Linked DNA regions of Homo sapiens: regions 1, 2 and 4 are each reported to be linked to region 3. The links are microRNA targets in miRTarBase. Many come from high-throughput screens and were not tested one by one. Region 3 holds a microRNA gene; each other region holds the end of a gene's coding sequence.

What was found. Region 3 holds the annotated microRNA hsa-miR-4789-5p (GUAUACACCUGAUAUGUGUAUG, at 2,549-2,570, shown strand). A microRNA usually pairs through its seed, bases 2 to 8, with sites in the 3' UTR of a target mRNA and lowers its output. Matches are read on the target gene's strand: a 7mer-m8 pairs with bases 2 to 8, a 7mer-A1 pairs with bases 2 to 7 and ends in A, and an 8mer does both.
Region 1: the mRNA of TANK is a reported target of hsa-miR-4789-5p. Seed matches in the 3' UTR shown: 7mer-A1 at 4,400-4,406 and 7mer-m8 at 4,012-4,018.
Region 2: miRTarBase lists CSMD1 as a target of hsa-miR-4789-5p. Seed matches in the 3' UTR shown: 7mer-m8 at 2,033-2,039.
Region 4: the mRNA of DLX2 is a reported target of hsa-miR-4789-5p. Seed matches in the 3' UTR shown: 7mer-A1 at 1,866-1,872.

What each region holds. Positions count from the first base shown.
Region 1 is chr2:161,234,640-161,240,148 of GRCh38, reverse strand. TANK (TRAF family member associated NFKB activator) reads right to left here. Exons shown (of 8, transcript NM_001199135.3): 8 at 3,919-4,807. The coding sequence ends at 4,631. All of the region lies in intron 3 of PSMD14-DT (PSMD14 divergent transcript), which reads left to right. Among named protein-coding and RNA genes, the nearest start is that of LINC01806, 7.3 kb to the left of the region's middle. RefSeq lists silencers at 848-917, 1,008-1,377 and an enhancer at 1,209-1,765.
Region 2 is chr8:2,934,368-2,939,876 of GRCh38, forward strand. It overlaps CSMD1 (CUB and Sushi multiple domains 1), which reads right to left. Exons shown (of 70, transcript NM_033225.6): 70 at 994-4,377. The coding sequence ends at 4,218. The region is part of intron 6 of LOC105377785 (a long non-coding RNA gene); the gene reads left to right. Among named protein-coding and RNA genes, the nearest start is that of LINC03021, 210 kb to the left of the region's middle.
Region 3 is chr3:175,367,004-175,372,512 of GRCh38, forward strand. It overlaps MIR4789 (microRNA 4789), which reads left to right and starts at 2,537; the gene lies at 2,537-2,618. All of the region lies in intron 5 of NAALADL2 (N-acetylated alpha-linked acidic dipeptidase like 2), which reads left to right.
Region 4 is chr2:172,096,072-172,101,580 of GRCh38, reverse strand. It overlaps DLX2 (distal-less homeobox 2), which reads left to right. Exons shown (of 3, transcript NM_004405.4): 2 at 1-119; 3 at 637-2,143. The coding sequence ends at 1,038. Among named protein-coding and RNA genes, the nearest start is that of DLX2, 4.1 kb to the left of the region's middle. RefSeq lists a silencer at 2,239-2,468.

The sequences.
Region 1 (5,509 bases), not on the chromosome of region 3:
TAAATTGATTTTTTAAAAAGGAACAATGGTGTGTATAAAGTTATGCAAAGGTAGGGGTCAGCAGAAGAAACAATTACACTGCACAGGTTTTTAGTTACTCTGGAGGTCCATCTATGGCTTACGGGGAAGGAAGTTTTATGATGTTTATAAGGGTAGTTTATGTAAACCCGTAACAGTAAAAATATTTTAATGGTAGGAATAAAAGTGCCTTTTAAGTGCAACAATCAGCTTTTACGGTCAAAAAGTAACAGGAGGTTGTATGAAATCTCAGGTCCCCGCCTGCATCAACAGGTATGAAAGGCTTTTTTCAGCAGACTCGGGTTCCGATGGGCTCTTTGTCGGAGGGGCGGCCAGGGCGCTGCTGTTTTTGACTAGCTTGTCTCGGGCCAGAGTATAGAACAGAGCGGCCAGGCGGGGAGCTGGGCCTCCAGATCAGGTCCTGCCCCCATCTGCCCCACAGTCTTCGCGGCAGGGGGGAGCGCGGCCCGCTTCTTTCCAGGCCCTTCTCTCCCCGCGACGGTCTTTCGAGGGAACTCTCGAGGCCCAGACGGCCCCTTAATCTAGTCTTGGGGTCAGGAGGTCAGGCCTTGGAAGCACAGCTAATGCTAAGGCCCTTTATGTATCTTCGCTGCGATCATTTAAACCGTGGACCGGTAGCTCTGGCAAAAAAGGGGCTCCAGGGGTCTAAGAGCCGCAGCGCGCGAGGCGTGGCGGGGGGCGCTGACCTCGCCGACTCGCCGCAGGCCAGCGGGGCGCGGCCACTGCAGGGCGGGTTGGGGGCGGCTGGAGGCCTCGGGGTGGCGGCCACGCTCGGGCAGGGCAGGAGATCTGCGCTCAGTCCTGGAGCCCTTCTTGGCCTTTGTGGCCCTGTCACTCTTTTCACCCCTGGCTGGCCCTAGCCCTTTCTGAATTCGCCTGGACTCCCAGTCGCGCTCGCTGGCCGACGCGGTCGATTCACCAGACAGCGAGTGGGCGTGAGAACGCAGGCTCTTCGGCCGCTTCCCCAGTACGTGGATCCCGGAGCGCGGGTCCTCGCCCCACCGCCCCGGGGAGTGGGCGCGCGGCGCAGGCCGAGCCCTCGGGCGAGCCCGCGCGGGGCTGCACTCCACCGGGCCGGCGCTGGGGGCCGCGCGGGGGCTCCTGGCCCGCTAGGGACTCGGTGGCGGTGGCTGGGTTCCACTCGCCAGCGGCGGGAAGGACGCGCGGGAAAGCGAGGGAGCAGGAAGCGGGTGGCGGCGGCGGCGCGGGGCCCGCTGGAAAGGAGGGAGCGCCGCAGGCGGGAGGAGGGAGCGCGGAGGAGGGAGGCCGGGAGGAAGGAGGGAGCGCGGCAGGCAGGCGGAGGGAGGGCTGATTAGCATGCAGCAGCGCTCGCGCGCCCGGCTCCATTGTTTTAACACCTCCCCTCTCCTCCGCGCCAATCTGTCACCGTTCAGCAGGCGAACGCTGCTGCCTCAAATGCTGCTCTTCTCAAATGAGACGGATAATTAGTTGCCCCGCACGAATGCCGCACTCTTCTCACCCCTGATTGCTATCACCTTCTTGCTCCTGGCAGTTTTGACACCTCGTAATCAGCCTGCTGCTTTTCTCTTTTCTTCCCGACTTCTGCTTCCCTCCCCCCGCTTTCCTTCCTAGTTTATTTATTTATTTATTATTATTATTTTAAATGCAATCCCGGTGCTTATTTGGGCGAGTCCTCCGCCGAGTTAACCTTTCGCGTATACATGTGTGCATTTATCTGTATATGGGAAATTGGGTGTCTGTGCGTGAGCGGGGGGCGGGCTGGCAGTTTTGCGGGAAACACTGCTTCCACGCCGAGAGAACTCGCTTCTCCTAAAGATATTTTTGGGAAGGGAGGAGTTGCAGAGAGGGACGGGAGGGGAGAGTTGGGGAGACCTCAATTAATGCTTTAAAGATCTCTTAGAAATTAACAAACTGGGGAGTCTTGGAATCTGCTGTCAGAAGCGTGTTTTCCCCTCTCTCCTCTAACAAGCACTGACAGTCTAATTACTGTAGCTACAAGCAGCTGTCGAGGCAGCAGCCCGGGAGAGGAGGCGCCACAGGCTGGGCGCGCCCGGCCGGCCCCTGCGCCCAGCCGAACCGCCGAAGCACGGCCCGACTCGGGGAAGGACTCAGGGAGGATGGAGAGGGGCAAGGCCCCGCGCCCGAGAACCCCGGCGGGCCTGCGAGCCAGCGGACACGCTTATTGTTTCCTTAAGTCTTTACCTTGAAGGTTAAAAGATGTGACGAAAGGAGGGGACGTGGGGGGAGTGGGAAGAAAATCTTCTAAGCTTCTATCCACCCCTTTTCTACCTCCTCGAGCTCTCCCTCCCCCCGTGTTGGTAAAATAACCACGCAACCCGGGGCTGAGGGGGCGGGGTGAGCCAGGCTGGAGTGTAAGAAAGCAGATGTCCCCGCTGGCAGCAGCCTCAGCCTCCGGGGAAAGCTGCACCGGGGGGGCCCTCCCGAGGACATTCACCTCCCACTTCTCAGGCATCCCGCTCACAACTGCCTCGCCTCGGCGGGGGTGGTTTTTTCAGACTCGGCGTTTCGCGTGTGCAGCTTTTTTACCTGGGAGCTGTTCTTACCCGGCCACGCTTAGCAGATGCCAAAAGCCAGACCCTGCACGACTCAGTCATGAGACAGAGGGAGAGACCTGGCGGGTGCCCACTCCACCTTTAGAGCGGTGACCCGCGCTCCCTCTGTAGAGCAGGGCAGGGGGCTGCTCTCCAGGCTGCCTTTCCTGTGGCCCCAAAGGGTCTATGTCCCTCACCACGTGGAGCTTAGGGTGCCGCTGGAATCCAGAAGAAAACCGAGTTTGCTAGTCCTGCTAAAAGTGGTGGGGGCGGGGAAAGGATGGGCTGGGGAGGAAGGTCAATGGTACACTTTAATTTGAGTCACCTTCTGGGACACGGAGTTTCCTCTGGTTGTCAGCAAGCTAGTAGATGTCAACTGTGTTGAGAGAAAGTCTTCCCATCTAGAAAAGGACAGGGGAAAAAAAGAATCCCCTTTCACCAGATAGGTACAGTGGTATATTCTGGCTGGTACACGCTGGGAAGTTTTTATTTTTAATTTTGTGTGTGTGTGTGTGTGTGTGTGTGTGTGTGTGTGTGTGTGTGCGCGCGCGCGGAGAAGGGAGGCTGGGTGGGCGGGAAGTGGGGGGAAGGGAAGAAACTTGGATAATTGTCTAGGCATTTCCATTCAGCCCTAGTGGCAATGAAAGAAAGATGTACATACCTCAGAACCCTTCGCAGTGAATACCTAATAATTACTGTCACCCTGGTGAGGAACATGTCAATATGATGTGCTTGGCACCAGGAGAAGTCGAGGCACCACTCTCATTCTTCCACAAGTTAAGGTTCTTCACTGTGGCACAGAGGCCTGCTCAAATTCCCCCATCCCACACCCTCTAGTTTAAAGCACTTGCTTCAAGAAGGCTTAAATTTCTGAGAGTTGCAAATCAATGCTTACTTCATAAAATGGAAGCCATGCCTTAAACACTTTTAAGAATCAGGGGAAAACAGAAACCTATAAGGCGAGAATCATAGGGAATAAAAATGAAAGGGAAGTCTCATTTTAAACAAATTTTGCAGCCGTCTGAATTTGGTATCCACTCTCTCAAATGTCTTCAGTGGCCATCAATCAGGCTGCTAACAATGAATAACAAATTTCTCAACAAGAATATGAACATTTCTAATCTAAGTTAACAAATATAGATAGTCCTTGCAGGGTTTTAGATTTTCTCCCGTTAAAAACAAATGTTTCTTTAGAAAGTTTAGTTTGAAGAATAATTCTAAAATTCAAAGTGATTCACTAATTGTAATAAATGCCACCAAATCTGGTCATCACCATTCTATTAGGTTACTGAAATGAAAACATGAATTTTATAAACTTCCCTAAAAATGTGATTCCTTCCTTCCCTTTTTTTTTTTTTTTTTTTACTCAGGAACAAAGGACATACAAATGATCACAACATAAGTACCTCTTAATATTTAATTAATTTCATCATGTAGCTATACACACAGTAAAAATTAAAGCCATGTATATTATTTAAAAATCTAAAGTGTTTAAATAATTCTACCAGTTGTTTTATCACTGGACAAGAAATGTATTAGGTTTGATATTTACAAAGATGTTTATGTTGTCTGCTATTTTCTATTATAGGTTTATTCAAAGAGAATATCACCTATAGCATAAATAATTAAATTTTTCAATAAAAACAAACTAAAAAAACCCTAGAAACATTTGACATCACCAAATTCAACAGCTCTCACTAGAAATCCAAGCAATAAACTTAGATATTTGAAATAAACATAAATTATGATTATATAACTCTAAGTCACATACATAATTTTGAATTATAGTAATAGCACTGTAAACATGAATACAAAGGATTACAGTTTTATACAGAATTTTTTTTGTTTTTCTTCTTTTAGGCTTATTTCTCCTTGAAAGAACAGAATGATCTTTTAAAAAATAAGAGTTATATAGTAAATCCAGAAAAAAATTCAAATAGCTGTGAAACTAGATTTTCCTATAAATGATCTTGAATTTAGTTTACAATCAAGTATTTATAGTATTAAAAACCCAAAATCATCACATAGAACTTGATATGTCTGTTTTCAAATGTGTCTTAAGTCTCTCCATTGAAGTGTGAATTAAGATGCCGAAGGAAATCCCCCCTGGATGTAATGGATGGTGGGAAAACTGCTTGACAGAATTCACATACTCGAGGTATATGCAGTTCTGAGTCTGTGCCACTTAGTACCACCGAGTCACTGTCTTGATTAGGAAAGGGCTTCCAAATGGGCTGCAGGAAACAAACAAAAATATCTGTTACTTATGTTTAAATTCAAATAGCACTGGACTTCAAATTTGAATTTCTGAATGAGTTACGCATGGGCATATATATTGAATTCCCTAATATAAAAGCAAATTACTTTTCCGTAAAGTTAGCATGACATGACTCAATTCGTGGTTTCATAAAGGGCACAACTAAACTTTGATTAAAAGTCACTTGGGACACACACAGTCATGCATTTTATCTTTATATATTTAAAAAGATTGCAGCTTTAGCATGCAATTTTTAATACTCGATCACAACAGCAGTAGTTTTGGAACAATAGCTAATACTCTGGTCTTTTAAATTAAATTCTATCTTTTGTTTTTTACAATAAAAACCTTAAATTATAGGGGCTTTATTAATTACATAGTACACAAGACATGATGTGTGTGTGCATTGCGTCTTAATCAAAATCAATTTCACTACTGTTTATAAGCAAATACAGTGAATACATCATACATGAATCAGCATTATTTTGATTTTTAAAAAGAAAATTTTCCTTTTAAACTACTGAACAAATTTCACTGATGTTATCTTTTGTTTTTAAAAACACAAATATTTAATCATTCAACAAAATCTAACACATGCAGTGTTTTGACTTCTTACTTTGCTTCTGTTATATAATAGGTAGTTTGGCCTTACTCATTCTTGTGGCTGAATAAAGTGAAA
Region 2 (5,509 bases), not on the chromosome of region 3:
TCACAGGTAGAATGACAGAAAAATTCAGAAAAAAAATTGGATAAGAAAGGGAATATTGGATGCATTTCATAATGTGACGGTTTCTTGAAAAATGAGAAAGTTGAAGCAAGAGAAACCTGACCTGTAATATCAGCTCTGCCTATCTGTGTGTCGTTGGGTAAACCAACCAACTTATTTAACTTCCTGCTTCTTCATCTAAATTATCAAAGTGGCAAAACCCTCTCGGTTGGATTATGGGGGTTTTGCAACGTCTGCGAGTCACAAAGTGCAGTGTCTCGCGCTCGGTATTTCCTCAATAAATGGCACCTAAATGCAGTTGCTGGCCAGCAAGACTCAGATTGCAAGTTGGACATCAAAACTTGGTCGCTGCGAAGCCACCGTGGGCTATTTTGGAAATATTATTGGTTGTTTTTCATTTTGTAATAACTTGACTCTCAGAGAAAGTAGTGTATCATTCTGTTGAACTGCAAGACATTCGGCGTGATGGGCCACCAAGGACGTGTAAAGCATTGTGTTTTCTGTCAGCCCAGAAATGAACGGGGGACCGCTGGTTCTGAGTTTAAAAAGCGGTTTGATTTTTTTGAGCCTTCTTTAAATGTGTTATTTGGAGTGCTCTGTTAAGTAGGTCTATAATTCTCTTTCATGTCATTTTTTTAGTGTGGTGAACGTTTACAAACAGAGCTCCCAAATTGAAAAGAAATCATAAAAAAACATAGGTTTTGGTTTGGAGGAAACCAAGTTTTCTTACCGTTTTTAATGTGAACCATCAAGAAATCTGTCAGCTTCAACGTTACTATTCTGTGTCTCATGGTTCCTGCTAAATGTGCTATTGATTAATCATGACGATGATGTGAATGTCGTGGGAAAAATATGGAGCTTCATTTTGAATATCCTAAAGGCTCATTATGAAGACTCCCATTCCTTCCCTCCCCTGCAAGGGACTCAGGTGCGCATATTAAAGTGAAAATAAATTCACACAGAAAAATAGAAATCTAAAATTAAATATTTAATTAGAACTCTGATTTGCTTTAAAGATTGGTGGCATTGCACAGGCTATATTACACCCTCTTTATAATTTTTTTGACAAAAAAAAGATACTGTTCATTTTAACAGGCCACTTTAATATTAATACATGTGTAATAGGATTGGAACTGAAAATCAGCTAGAGATGGTACATTTTACATTATTGGGAAAATTACAGTTCTGTATTGTAAAAACATTTATTTTTTAACAATGTACCTACATTAATCAAAAAATTACAGCATATTTAATAATTTTACAAATTCTTCATAAAAAATATATCTCTGTACAAAAAGGTCTTTCGCACCTACGTCGTGACAGCAGCGTGTGGTGGGACGGGAGGGAGGGTCGGCGATGACAATGGGTTTTCCTGATCATAATGCCAGCGTTCTTTTTTTTACCCCCTTTTTATAATAGCTTTTTGTTGTTGTTTACAAAATATTTTACAGAAGAAAAAAATTATTGCAGCTAGCCTGAAAAAAGGCAAGATGTGTGTGTAAAACAAGCAGCAGTTTTAAACAGCTCTGAAGCACGTGTCCTCTGTTAGTGTGTGGTCGCGTCCCTCACGCGTGTTCCCGTTGCCTTCAGGGAAGAGTCTTCTAGACCTAACTCAGCAAGCACAGCTCCTGACTGCCCTAAAATGAGATCCTCCAACACCTTGCGGAGACGCCGTTCAACACTGCACACAACCTTAGGAAGAAACTAGGCAGAATTCTCACACGAGAATTTCACTGATTTTTTTTTTCATTTAAATAACATGCTTCAAACTGGCAACCCTAGGACAGTTTGACTTTGCACACAAAGGAAAATCATATCTAATTTGATATGTGGTTTCTTGTATGTATGTATGTCCTGTCATTTCAGGATTTCATAGCATCGTTGACCAGGGAGCAGGTCAGGGATATGGGAACAGAGATGTTAATTCAGACTCTGAAGTCAGCATTTTGCACCTAGTTTGAATGACTCAAACTTAGATATGTACAATATATATATATATATATGTATGTATATATATACACTAATATGTATAGTAACCCTGTTCTCCCTTGCACACGAGCCTCCTCACACTTTCAATCATCTTCTGTTTCGTTCAATGTGTGTGTTAGGAGCACGACTCCCGCTGACCTCGTCCCGTCTACTGTGAAACAGCAATGTAAGGATTCCCACTGGCAAAGCAAATCTCCAAGGATGTGGGCAGGTTGGCCAGGGAAAACTGTGCAGAGAATTCAGCATAATGATACAGAATCCAACAGCGTGGGGTTCACAAGACAAAGGAGTCCCTAGGAGAGGCCAGTGAGTCCCCAAACAGCAGAGACCCTTTCGACCGAGGAACACAACACTGGGAGCCGAGCTCTACGGAAATGTCCGAATCAAAACGCGTGACTCTCCAAAGAATGCCCCATTTTCCTGACTGCTTTTCCTTTTCCACATTTGAAGTCCTACATGGAAACCTTCAGTACACCAACAGATAAATCAGTCTTAAAGCTAGGTGTCAATGTGTTCACTCCGACAACGTGAAGGCCAATTTGAACATTCTGACATTTCTATTACCAACGCCAATCTAAAATGTGAAACAGAGAAAATCTGCCACAATTGAATAGGAACTGAAATATCAAATAATAAAATAAGTACTATCGTTTCAAAAATATTTTTATCAAATAAGTATAAGTAAAAGTAAACATGATTTTCACTTTGAATTTGTTACATAAACTACCTCACGGCCACATCTTCTACTTCATGTTTTGATTTTTATTTGCCCTGGGGATCTTATAGATTTTATTTGCATCATAACTTATCATTTACCTATAATGGAATTTAAACTTGAAAAGTCACTGAAATTACCTTTCCATCTGGAATCATAAAGCATGAAACAAATAACAAATGAATGTATAAAATATATCATTGTGAGAGGAGAGTGTGTGTACTTTTTCCTTCCCTCTAAAAGAACACTTGGTATTTTGATCCTGAACAATTTTCACTGAGTTCAAGGTGCTACTGTGGTATATTGTCTTTCAATGCAATATCAAAGATCGATGGCACAGTAAAAGACAAAAAAAAAAAAAAACAAAAAAAAAACACTGCAAAAGGGAAGGCTGCATTGTGAGCTAAAACCCACAAGTTCATCGACTATCTAAAATAAATTACTATTCACAGTTTTACATGGCAAACAGAAATTTCTGCAAACCCCCTGCTATTAAGTAGTATCAGAGAGACAGTAATTGGATGAGGATGGTACTAAAGGAGGAAAACGTGTGAAATAAGGAGGCTTCTGTTTTTTTCTCATTGGACCTCTTCAATGAATTCAACACGTAAATGGAGCTAATTGAAGCAATAATAAAATAAATCTCTTCAATACTGTATTTCCTTTTAAAATCTGTGCCATATCTAGGAATACTTTTCCCTAACACTCCAACTAAGCTGATGGGGGAATGTTTAGCTTGATAATATGAAATAATGCTTATATACAATGGATAGTGTGTATAAACCCTGTGTAAATAATTTATTTTTTTTATCAGAATCTTAGTCATTCATAACACACTAGTGCAAAAAATTGTGCATTAAACATTCTGCGACAGAACAGCTGACTGGGAAATTGCAAACATCCCTAGAGATGAACACACAGGGGAGCTGTGAGGTCCTCAAAGCTTGTCAGGTCTCGGAAGGACAGAGTGAAGCATTTGTAGGTGTGAGCCTCTATCAGAAAGGTGTCTTCTTCCAGAAAGCTTTTTATTTTTTTCAGAGTATTCGTGTTCATGGGGGTTTAAAAAGGAAAAACAACACAAGAGAACACATATCGTGGTGCCACCATTCTGTCACCGCACCTGAGGGACATATCCACGAGCCCAGACGATTGCATTGAAAGGCATCTCAGCAACACAGAAATATGAAAGTCTGAGGCATTGAGTATGACGTGTTGGCGCGACGTGGCAGTCTTCCTGGAGTGTGCCTTGATTTCATACAGATGCAGCCAGGCATTTAGAACCCACTTTTGGAATGAAAACGCATGTGTAGTTTGATCCGTAGAAGACCCTGACACATTTGAGTAGAGATCCCCGCTGCACTTATGCCAGTAGACAAGGTTGAAGATCGCTGCAGTAAAGCCAGAGTGGAAGGGAGAGTGGTATATGGCACCAAAGGAATCACTGCTTGTCCATCAGAGGTATGGCTATGAATCAGTCCTGTTGGGGCACTGAGGGCTATACCACTGTACAGACTGTGTTCAGAGTTGTGTCAAACCTCACAGCCTTGGCTTCTGTGGGTTTTAAGTTTGTATCATACATGGGGTTTTCAAACGATGCTTGTCCATTGCTGTTTTCATGCCCAGCATAGCCATTGTATTGAACTTTTGGTCTCGTTCTAAGGAAAACAGAAAACAAATCATTAGAATCCTGGTTTCATTTGCAGATTTAGCAGCTGGGACTGTGTGCAGGAGACAACGTCTACAGAGCAGGGAGCAGTATAGCCAGGACGTTTGCAAAGAAGGAAGGCATCCACACCTGCACACCTGTCAGTTTATTTGCTTAAATTGGTGATTGGGAGTATAAAATGGGTTTTAAAAAGTGAATCGATTTCAAAAATTAAATAAAATTTTTTTGAGACAGGGTCTCACTCTGTTACCCAGGCTGGAGTGCAGTGGCACGACCACCACTCATTTCAGCCTTGACCTCTTGGGCTCAGGCGATCCTCCCACCTCAGCCTCCTGGGTAACTGGGATCAAAGATTTACTTATGCTTCCTACAAATGCCCCAGGGAAATCGGGAAGGTCCCAAAGGCTGAATCGGATTGGTTTTGTTTTGGATGTCTATTTATCACTGATAAGTTATACGGCCTTGGTTAAGACACGAAACTTTCTACTACTCTGTAAAACAGGGTTGTGGGCATATGCCTAGCCTTTAGCACGGTATGCTTACACTAAATTTCAAGTTTAAGCTTTTAGTTCACTGTCGTTACTAATATTCACAAAAAGTTATTTTTTATTTTGCCTCTGTTGAGTTAAAAATGAATCTTTATAAAAAAGGAACTATACTCATTATTAAACTGTTGTCACATTTTCTGGTTAAAAGAAAACCCCTACGTACAATCTATGATTAGAGAATTAGAGGATTTTCAGACTGAAAAGACAGAATCATGTCTGGTCTGCTCTGTCTCTGTTTATTCTTTCCTTATTCCAGAAGAAATCAGGTAAGAAAAATGTGCCACGTGGCAAAACCAGAAATTTAATGTACATAAGCACGCTCGCAAAAACATCATTTGACATTGGGCGTCAAGAAACTTCTGCCGAGACATTTACTAGATTTCCTTATGTTACACATGCTCATTAAGAAAAAGAGAAGTACGTGGCACATGGCTCTGAGAAAAAGGCAGAACAGCACTTTGTGACTGCCCTTGGAGTGGGAGAGGTCCGTGACATTGTGCTTGGAACATGCGCCAGCAGTGATCGTTAGCAAACAAATCCAGCCCCTCGTCAATGAAGTGAAGACCTGGCTAA
Region 3 (5,509 bases):
AAATCTTTAATCCATCTTGAATTAATTTTTGTATAAGGTGTAAGGAAGGGATCCAGTTTCAGCTTTCTACATATGGCTAGCCAGTTTTCCCAGCACCATTTATTAAATAGGGAATCCTTTCCCCATTGCTTGTTTTTCTCAGGTTTGTCAAAGATCAGATAGTTGTAGATATGCGGCGTTATTTCTGAGGGCTCTATTCTGTTCCATTGATCTATATCTCTATTTTGGTACCAGTTCCATGCTGTTTTGGTTACTGTAGCCTTGTAGTATAGTTTGAAGTCAGGTAGCATGATGCCTCCAGCTTTGTTCTTTTGGCTTAGGATTGACTTGGCGATGCGGGCTCTTTTTTGCTTCCATATGAACTTTAAAGAGTTGTTTCCGATTCTGTGAAGAAAGTCATTGGTAGCTTGATGGGGATGGCATTGAATCTATAAATTACCTGGGGCAATACGGCCATTTTCACGATACTGATTCTTCCTACCCATGAGCATGGAATGTTCTTCCATTTGTTTGTGTCCTCTTTTATTTCCTTGAGCAGTGGTTTGTAGTTCTCCTTGAAGAGGTCCTCCACGTCCCTTGTAAGTTGGATTCCTAAGTATTTTATTCTCTTTGAAGCAATTGTGAATGGGAGTTCACTCATGATTTGGCTCTCTGTCTGTTATTGGTGTATAAGAATGCTTGTGATTTTTGTACATGGATTTTGTATCCTGAAACTTTGCTGAAGTTGCTTATCAGCTTAAGGAGATTTTGGGCTGAGACAATGGGGTTTTCTAGATGTACAATCATGTTGTCTGCAAACAGGGACAGTTTGACTTCCTCTTTTCCTAACTGAATACCCTTTATTTCCTTCTCCTGCCTGATTGCCCTGGCCAGAACTTCCAACACTATGTTGAATAGGAGAGGTGAGAGAGGGCATCCCTGTCTTGTGCCAGTTTTCAAAGGGAATGCTTCCAGTTTTTGCCCATTCATTATGATATTGGCTGTGGGTTTGTCATAGATAGCTCTTATTATTTTGAGATACATCCCATCAATACCTAATTTATTGAGAGTTTTTAGCATGAAGCGTTGTTGAATTTTGTCAAAGGCCTTTTCTGCATCTATTGAGATAATCATGTGGTTTTTGTCTTTGGTTCTGTTTATACGCTGGATTACATTTATTGATTTGCGTATATTGAACCAGCCTTGCATCCCAGGGATGAAGCCCACTTGATCATGGTGGATAAGCTTTTTGATGTGCTGCTGGATTCGGGTTGCCAGTATTTTATTGAGGATTTTTGCATCAATGTTCATCAAGGATATTGGTCTAAAATTCTCTTTTTTGGTTGTGTCTCTGCCTGGCTTTGGTATCAGGATGATGCTGGCCTCATAAAATGAGTTAGGGAGGTTTCCCTCTTTTTCTATTGATTGGAATAGTTTCAGAAGGAATGGTACCAGTTCCTCCTTGTACCTCTGGTAGAATTCGGCTGTGAATCCATCTGGTCCGAAAATAGTTACATTTTACAAACGAATCTCTAACACATTTTGGTATCTTTTTTTATACTTTGAAAGGACTGTAGCAGGTGTGTGTGAGTGTGTGTGTGTGTGTGTGTGTGTTTATAGCCAGTATGTATATATGTAGCAAATACGTTCATGTGCCATTTAATAATGGAGATGCTTTCTGAGAAATGCATCATTAGGTGACTTCATTGTTGAGAGAACATCATAGAGTGCACATAACACAAACACATTGTGTAGCCTCCTAAACAACTAGGTTATGTCGTATAGCTTATTACTTCTAAGCTACAAACCTGCATAGCATGTTATTGTACTGAACACTGTAGGCAATTACAATGCAGTGGTATTTGTATATCTAAACATATCTAAACACAGAAAAGGTACAGCGAAATATGATATAAAAGATTAAAAAAAATTGCCACCCCTGTATAGGGCACTTTTCATGGAACTTGTGGGAGTAGAAGTTGCTCTGGGTGGATCTGTGAATGAGCAGTGAGCAAATGTGAAGGCCTAAGACGTTACTATGCATTACTGTAGGCTTTATAAACACTGTACACTTAGGTTACACTAAATTTGTTTTAAAAATTAAGTAATTGCACTAATGTCACAATGAGAACAATGCCACTAGAGTTTTTCAGCTCCACTATAATCTATGGAACCACCCTCATGTATGTGATTTGTTCTTGAGCAAAATGTCATCATGCAGCACCTGACTGTATATATATGTAGCAAGTATGTGTGTGCCTGTGTGCGCGTGTGTATATATAAATGTTACATTTACATACACCTGATATGTGCATGTGTAATTATATATGTAACAAGTATGTGTGTGCCTGTGTGCGTGTGTGTACATATACATGTTACATTTACATACACCTGATATGTGCATGTATACATATATAGGTAACAAGTATGTGTGTGCCTGTGTGCGTGTGTGTACATATACATGTTACATTTACATACACCTGATATGTGCATGTATACATATATAGGTAACAAGTATGTGTGTGCCTGTGTGCGTGTGTGTGTATGTGTATATATACATGCTACGTATGTATACACCTGATATGTGTATGTGTAAATACATATCCACACACATAGCAGGTGTATATATAGGTAGCCTGTGTGTGTGTGAGTGCATGTGTGTGTATGTGTAGCAGGGGTTTTGTGTTAGAACCAAGAGCTTGGAACTGGTACAATGAAAATATTTTGCCTGAAAGATATGCTTAGTAAAAGTCCCAAGTTTCACACATTTTTGAGGCTCAAAGTGAAGAACTCAAAGTGAATTATTAGGTAATCATATCTACTTCTTCCTAAACCCTTCATCTGATTGTGTGCTAAAATTTAATACTAACTGATCTTTCCATCTCCATAAAATTCTTTGAGATAACAAAATCCTACATTCCGGTTTCTGAAGGATGGTATTCTGCAAATGTGAAAGTTTCCCTTAACCTCCAAAAAATAATTGGGTTAATCCAGCTACCACAAGTGTGAAATTGAGAAGCTGCTTGCTAAGATTGAATTTAATATTGTCACATGTCATCTGAGAGCTGCTTGTCTGATCATGTTGCCACTGGACAAAGTAAGCCTTACTACAAAGGATAAAAGAATGATTATTTCAATATCCAGTCATAGTTCATCATCAAACTCTGAGTAAAATGGAGAAAAAAAGACGTTTTATCTTATATGACTCTATGCATTTCTCTGGGAAGTCATTTATCTGGTTGCTATCCAGGAGAGCAAAGATAATGGGAAAAATCTTCCACTATTCTCAACTATAATTTTAAATATCAAATTTTAATAAAATAGGTTTTGGTTATTTCTTTTAAAAGCCCTCAATATAAGAAAATGAAATGTTAGAAACTTATTTTATAAAATATATTTGTGAACCATAAAACCCCATATAAAATGGAAATTATTATCACCATTAACTACTGATGCTTCTAATCTTATTCTGTAATGGTTAAAAAATGACTAGAATTTAGAGTTACTGCCAATATATGGGGGGGGGAGGGATTTTATAAAAATAGCTTTATTCATTTGCATGTTAAGCAAGAGTGTGATTACTGATGGCCGTAAGAGTCACTTGCTGCTTTAAGCTCTGCTCTGCTGCTGACTCTACATGTGTAGCTTTGAGAGGTCCTTTAGCCCCTCCAGCTTTCCACATAGGCAGGATGTGGCTATTGTACTTGATGATATGCCAAACATGCTTCTGATTCCAACATTCGATGGTTCTGTGATATTTCTACCTTATTACAAAAGACATTCACTTTAAAAGTATAAACACCGTAGTAACTTTTTTTCTTTCATTGTTTTCAATAAAAGGGTAATGGAAGTAAACTGACAAGTTTAGGAGGCTTTCAGAGCATAAAGGAGAAAGGCTGGCAGCTCTTGAGAACCTCTTTGCTTTCAGCTGAGAGCAAGTAGAGAATGCTTGCTCTCTGGCCCTGAATGTCATAACATTATGTTCAGAATCATTGAAATGTCTGACAACACTGTTGATTAAAAATGAGAATCATTAGGCCATGTCTGCCGTTATAGGATGAAGGGTAGTTTGAACAGTATGGAAAAAAACTATCCCAAAAGGATGATTTGTCTTAGACAATATTACCAAAATTTCAAATTATACTATGTATAGTAATTTGCAGTAATTCACTTTTTTTTTATATTTAGCTTCATCTTAAAAGTTCTCCTTCATTGGTAATGCTTTGAAAAATGCTGGATTTAGAATTATGAAGAGACTATCAACTAATATTATGGATGATATTATTATTATTATTATTTTTTGAGACGGAGTACTCGCTCTTTCGCCCAGGCCGGACTGCAGTGGCGCTATCTCGGCTCACTGCAAGCTCCGCCCCCCGGGTTCTCGCCGTTCTCCTGCCTCAGCCTCCTGAGTAGCTGGGATTACAGGCGCCCGCCACCGCGCCCGGCTAATTTTTTGGATTTTTAGTAGAGATGGGGTTTCACCGTGTTAGTCAAGATATGGATAATATTATTTAGAAACCATTCTGTGTGCTACAAAAGTCCTTTGAGAATGATATGAGCTGGGCACGACGGCTCATGCTTGTAATCCCAGCTCTTTGGGAGGCCAAGGCGGGTGGATCACCTGAGGTCAGGAGATCAAGAGTAGCCTGGCCAAGATGGCGAAATCCCGTCTCTACTAAAAATACAAAAATTAGCTGGGTGTGGTGCAGGGGCCTGTAATCCCAGCTACTCAGGAGGCTGAAGCAGGAGAATCACTTGAACCCAGGAGGCGGAGGTTGCAGTAAGCCAAGATCATGCCACTGCCCTCCAGCCTGGACAACTCCATCTATTAAAAAAAAAAAAAGATAACCACTAAAATGGCTATTATTCATCTTTCAAAATCTGTAATACCTGGAAGTTCTGCATGACCTTTAGGAAAACTACATCCACAAAGCGTTCCTTCTAGTTTCCTAATAAGTTTTAGAAGAAATATTGCCATTCTGAGCTAAACTAGTTCTACTTCCTTAGGGCAAATTCCTACCATAACATGAAATAGACAAATATAATTACTCTAAAAAAAGTCCAGCCATAGCATCTTAGAGTTTAAAGGAATAACCCTTAGGAGTTCACAAAATTTTTTTTCCACTGCTTCCTAGGCAGACCTCATTTAGTGTAGCTGGCGTGTTGCCCTGCAGACTTTACTGAACTGCTAGTACAGGAGTCGCTATGTTTTTAGCTAGCCCATTCAGTTTTTGTAAAGCTCCATCATTACATTTTTCATCATACTGACCTAATACCTAGCTATATTTAGCTTGCTCACGCTCTGCCTTCTGGAGCGAAAACATGCATGTCTGTGCATTCTCTATATCTACCTAGTATCAGTTAGAGTTTCGTGTTTTCCTTCATGTAACAGAAAACTCATTAACAGTGGACTTCTCCAAATACTTCTCTAAATATTTTTCTCACAAAATGAGAAATCGAATGAAGCGTTGGTGTTAATTCAGTGTCTTGAAGATATTAGACCCAAGCTCTCTGTCTTTTCCTCATG
Region 4 (5,509 bases), not on the chromosome of region 3:
GCACCATCTACTCCAGTTTCCAGCTGGCGGCTCTTCAGCGGCGTTTCCAAAAGACTCAATACTTGGCCTTGCCGGAGCGAGCCGAGCTGGCGGCCTCTCTGGGCCTCACCCAGACTCAGGTGGGGCTCGCGCCCTGCAGGGGCGAGGAGAGCGCGGGCCTGAGATGGCTGGGAAGCAGGCGGGTTTAGGACAATGCTTTTTAAAGTTCATTTTAAGTACTTTTAAGGATTTCCAGGCCTGCGCCTCGAGCGGCCCTAAGTAAGCTTCTAGGCCCAAAGCTGGAAACCCCCAAGGGGCCGCCGTGGGAGGGAAGGAAAGGGACCGGGTGGACAGAAATCCCGTACCTCTCGCTACTGATTAAGCGGGTGAAATAACTGGCCCTCCTCACCCTCCCGCTGTCACCATCATCACAGTGCACGTACACCAGCAGTCCTGGCCTTTTGGCAATTACCTCCCCAGGGAGCAGGAACCGGCAGAGCCTCGAAGGCCGCCGCCCGTGATCCTCTTATCTCCCCAGGGCGCTCGCTGCCCACCGCTAGCCAGCGGTTTTTCTCTGCCTTCTTTTTTCTCCTCTTCGAACCCCTACTGCCCCAAGACTAGGTTCCTCCACTAATGCTCAGGTCTTTTTCCTCAAAGGTCAAAATCTGGTTCCAGAACCGCCGGTCCAAGTTCAAGAAGATGTGGAAAAGTGGTGAGATCCCCTCGGAGCAGCACCCTGGGGCCAGCGCTTCTCCACCTTGTGCTTCGCCGCCAGTCTCAGCGCCGGCCTCCTGGGACTTTGGTGTGCCGCAGCGGATGGCGGGCGGCGGTGGTCCGGGCAGTGGCGGCAGCGGCGCCGGCAGCTCGGGCTCCAGCCCGAGCAGCGCGGCCTCGGCTTTTCTGGGCAACTACCCCTGGTACCACCAGACCTCGGGATCCGCCTCACACCTGCAGGCCACGGCGCCGCTGCTGCACCCCACTCAGACCCCGCAGCCGCATCACCACCACCACCATCACGGCGGCGGGGGCGCCCCGGTGAGCGCGGGGACGATTTTCTAACCCCAGGGAGAACTCGCCAGAGACTGAGAGCAGAGACCACTTATCCTCATTGCTTACCCCGAGCCGGGGTTCCCTCCTCCCGGCCCGCTGCCGCCACCCACCTCTCCTGCAGGCTGCGACCTGCAGTGGCCCGTCTCAGGCCCTGCTCACTCCCGGGGCCACCAAACGGGCCCCTCTCTCGGGGGAACCGGACAGCAGCTTGGCAAAGGCCTCCCTAAAAGGCCGCATTTCTGACCTGAGCCCCGGGTCTCGGCTGTTTCGAGCCCCGCCTCGGACTTGCCTTCCCTCCCCTCCGGGTGAGCCTGTCTGGCGCCTTCCTCGCCCCGGGCTGAGAGCTGGGTCCCGGGAGATGGAAGCCTCCCAGGCGCGCGAGGCTTCCCGGGCGCTCTGAGGCTTCTTTCTCCTCGCCCGCTCCCCTGGGCTCAGCTCGGACGCTGCAGTTATTGACCTCCCGGTCCCGCCTGCCCGCCCTCCCCCACGTGGCCCCTTGACCCGGGCGGCCCCGCCGCTTCTTTCCTTCCTGCAGTTCCCAGCCCTCGGAGCCCCCATCCCTTATCTTACCCCCACCGCGCTCCCCCAGGAGCGCTCCCTCAGCTCTCTCCTCATCCATCACCAGTGGAGTTTTTTTATTTGTTATTTTTTTAAAAGTTTAGGTGCCTTTGCGGATGACCTCATTTTGACGTTGAAAAAATGATTTTTTAATATGTGAACACTGCAAAAATGTGTTTAAATTATCTTTTTTAAAACCTATTCAGGATTATTAGCCTGGACTTGGACACAGAGTTTGTAAATAAAGGTGTCTGTGCAGATTTTCCCACTGATTTATTTGTATAAAAATACTCATCTTTTCAGACTTTTTTGTAAACCCCCAGTTGTGAAAACTGCAGTTTAGCAGTGACCTCAGCAACCCCTCCTTTTTATTTTTTCCTTTAAAAACATTTCAGTTAAATTAAGCTACTGATTTGGATTTGTTTTATCGTATCCTAAAGTCTTTGTTGTTGAAATGAAAGGTATTTTGGGGTTATTTATTATGAAAACAACATGCTCTTAATGTTGATTTTACAATATGAAGAGATTATTTAAATAAATTATTGTTTTCATTGGATGTGTGCGCTTTTTTCTTGGTGCCAGGGTCCGGTCAGTCACGTGCTCAGAGCTCAAGCCGCTGCCCAGGCCGGGAAGCCAGCCGGCCGAGAGCTACGTTTACATCTTTCCGAGGCTGCGACACCGCGAGGTGCGGCAAGGAGAGGACAGGCGCGCTGGGCGTGGGGCCGCACCGGGGGTTTCACGCCCCGCCCCCTCCCGAGTCCCCGCGAGGGATTCTCCGGCCGGCGGCGGGGTGACTCACTCAGCGCGGAGCGGCTCCAGCCTCCGCCTGCCCTGCCCCTCCGGCGCCGGCGCCACCGCCCCCGCGCCCGCCTAGATGGCCAGGCTCGGCACCCCAGCCGCCGCGGGGGACCTCCTGTCAGGGACCTGAGCTCTGCAGCAGCCTGAGGGTCGGAACCCTACTTTGAACCTTCCCCTCCGTTTGTCCCACCGCCCTTCGGGACTGAACTGAGAGCTCTGTGAGTCACCCTCGGGAGGCATGGCTGGCTGCTCTGGAATGCAAGCCGACCCCAACGACACGGGGCCGTGCTCGAGCGCGCGCAAACACACAATCACACACTGAGCACACTGTCACAGGCCCATCTATACTAGCACACACTCACCCATACTGATACACACTCTCACAGTCACACTCATGCTCAAATATTCTCAGGCGCACACACAATGACACACACTCGAACACCGTCACATCACACACTCATACTCCATCACACTCTTACAACACTGACACACGAAGTCATGCACACTCGCATTCATACCCTTACACACTGATAGACAAACTCACATATGCACACTCATGTATACTTACTCACAGACTTATATACACTGGTATGAGAGTGGCATCTTTCCACTTCATACTCTTGGTGGGGGGGATGTCCACACACCACTGGGCTCTGCTTTCTACCTTGGGCCCCACACAACCAGCTTACAACTTTGGAGGTGACCCTGCTTTCTGGCATTCCCTACAAAGGCCAGGGGTTGGTGGTTAATGAAGGTCCCTGAAAGTGCTAGGGCCTTTCCCTGAAAGTGCTAGGGCCCGCAGTTGGAAGCTTCCTGGCTTCAATCACTGACTGTGTGACCTTGGGGAACCCATTTAACCACCCTGTGTTACAGTTTGCAGATCTGTAAGATAGGAGAAATATTAACAGCTATAGCTTGCAGTTGTGAGCATTTAATGAGGCAACAGTGTAACAGTGCCTGGCACATGGTAACAACTCACTAAATTATATCTATTTAATATTTAGTATTACTGTTTTTTCACTACCCCCAGAGAGGGGTATGAAACCCACAGTTACCCAGAGGCTTTCCAACTTCACTTTGTGTGGAAGAGCAACATCCTGGGGCTGGGAAAGCCCCTTCCTACCTGGGGTTTGAACCTCAGCCATGCCCTCTGAAGGGATTCTCCCCTACTGCAGAGGGGCTGGGTGCCAGCCACAGAGCCCCGCCTGCCAGGTCCAGGCTTCGTCTCCTCTAGGATGAGGCCATCTGTGCTGTGTGTCTTCAACTTATCTGCCAAAACCAGACACGGGGCGGAGGTGACTTTCTGGGCTCAGTGGCATCATCCTGAGGAGAATCATGACTTTTCTGAGCAGATTGCTTTGGGGCCTTCTCTGAGTCTGGTTTACAACCATGCGGTCCAGAGAGTTGCGGCTTTGGAAAAAGCAGGGGGGCTACACGATCCAGTGTCCCATTGCATTTTTGCATTGTTTTCCCAGGCTAGGGAGGCCTGGGTTGAAGCCCATTGACCTATGATCCTGGGTTTCCCTAAGCAACCGCTGCCTGGCAGACCCCCATCCCTGTCCACCACCCGCACCCCAGCTCCAAATTCTGTGGGTTTTGTTTCTTTTTTTTTTGTTTTTTTTTTCTTTTTAGTGCCACTAACTGGTGCCAGCCTTCCTCCTGAGGGTGACTGTGCCCTCCCCTCCTTTGCACGCACTCCCCTCCCTCCTCCCGAAACCAGCGGGGAGAGACGGGCAGTAAATTGGCTGGTGTCGAGGATCTGCAGCAGACAAGATGATTAAGAGGCCTACGCTGGAGAGCCCGGGGCAGGGAATGTCAGCCCAAGTTGGAATCACGCAACAGGCCTTGGCATGAGCCAAGCCTGGGAGTCGGGAGGGCGGGAGCTCCCAGCTCCGGGGTGGGCTGAGGCCCCACAGACTCGCCGGAGTCACCTTACCCGGCACCCAGTGACGACAGGGTCGGGCCGGGCCACGGTGTGCCTTTCCCCAGGGAGCCTGCGAAGCCGAGAGCAGGAGGGTGAAGGGGCCAGAGGAAGGGGGTGTTTCCGCAGACCACGAGAAGGGCAAAGAGAAGGGGTTGCAAGGACGCGCCCAGGTCCCAGAAATGAGGGGGCGGAAAGGGGGAGGGGTAGGCAAGGGAGGAAACAAAGCCTGGCTCCTGGAGGCGGGGGCCGGCTCCAGCCCCGCCGGGGGCGACGCGCTGGCAAGCCTTTCTCACAGTCTCCCGGCCCGCCCGGAGACGCGGAGTCCTGTGATCAGCCCGCCGCCGCGCAGACACGCTCCCCCCGTGCTCTACTGAGCTCCCCAAAGCGCGAATGAAAAATGGAAATGGGAAGCAGCGATCTCGGCTCTCTACGCTGGGAAACTAGCAGTGCTCAGAACACACATAAATCTCCATTGTAATCTCCTTCCAATTGCTCGCGTGAAATATCAGGCCAGAGACAGGATATGACAAGCGCTGGGAAGCAGGGGGAGGGAAGCTGAAGAGTGAGGGGTGCACGGCCCTCTCCGCTCCACCCTCTGGCAGGGCTCTCCCAACTCAGGCAGAACGCGGGCACTGAGCTCCAGGGCCAACTGCCTGCCGCCCAGGTACTCCCGCGCCCCCCGCCCCTTCAATCCCCTTCTCCCCCCAACCCCGGTGCACGCTCTGCCCACAGCCACCTCGCCCCAGCACGGCGCTCCGCTGGGCGCAGACCCCCCTCCGGCTGCGCGGAATTCCCGCCGCCGGCCCCGAGACTCCGGGATGGGAAGGGCAGAAAAGAGAGAGAATGGATCCCAGGCCTCACCAGCCCTGCTGCAATGTGGGACCGTTTAGGAGGCTTCCCCTAGGCCTTCTTTCAGGATCACTTGTGAAAATTGTGAATATCCGCCCTGTGTAACGATCCCAGACTGATGGAGCGAATTTGGGAGAAATACCGGTTTGGTGGAGGCGGAGAGAGCGGGGGAAGACTGGAACTTTGTTTACAAACAGTTCAGTGGTAGAAGACGAGGGGCAGAAGAGGCGGGTGCAAAGAGAAGCTCTGAAGTGGTCCCCTCCGCCCAAGAGAACAATGTCCGGGAGCAAGAAGCCCCGTCCCCTCTCAAAAAGTCGTTCTTACGGGCAGTAAAACTCGAGTGCAACTCCC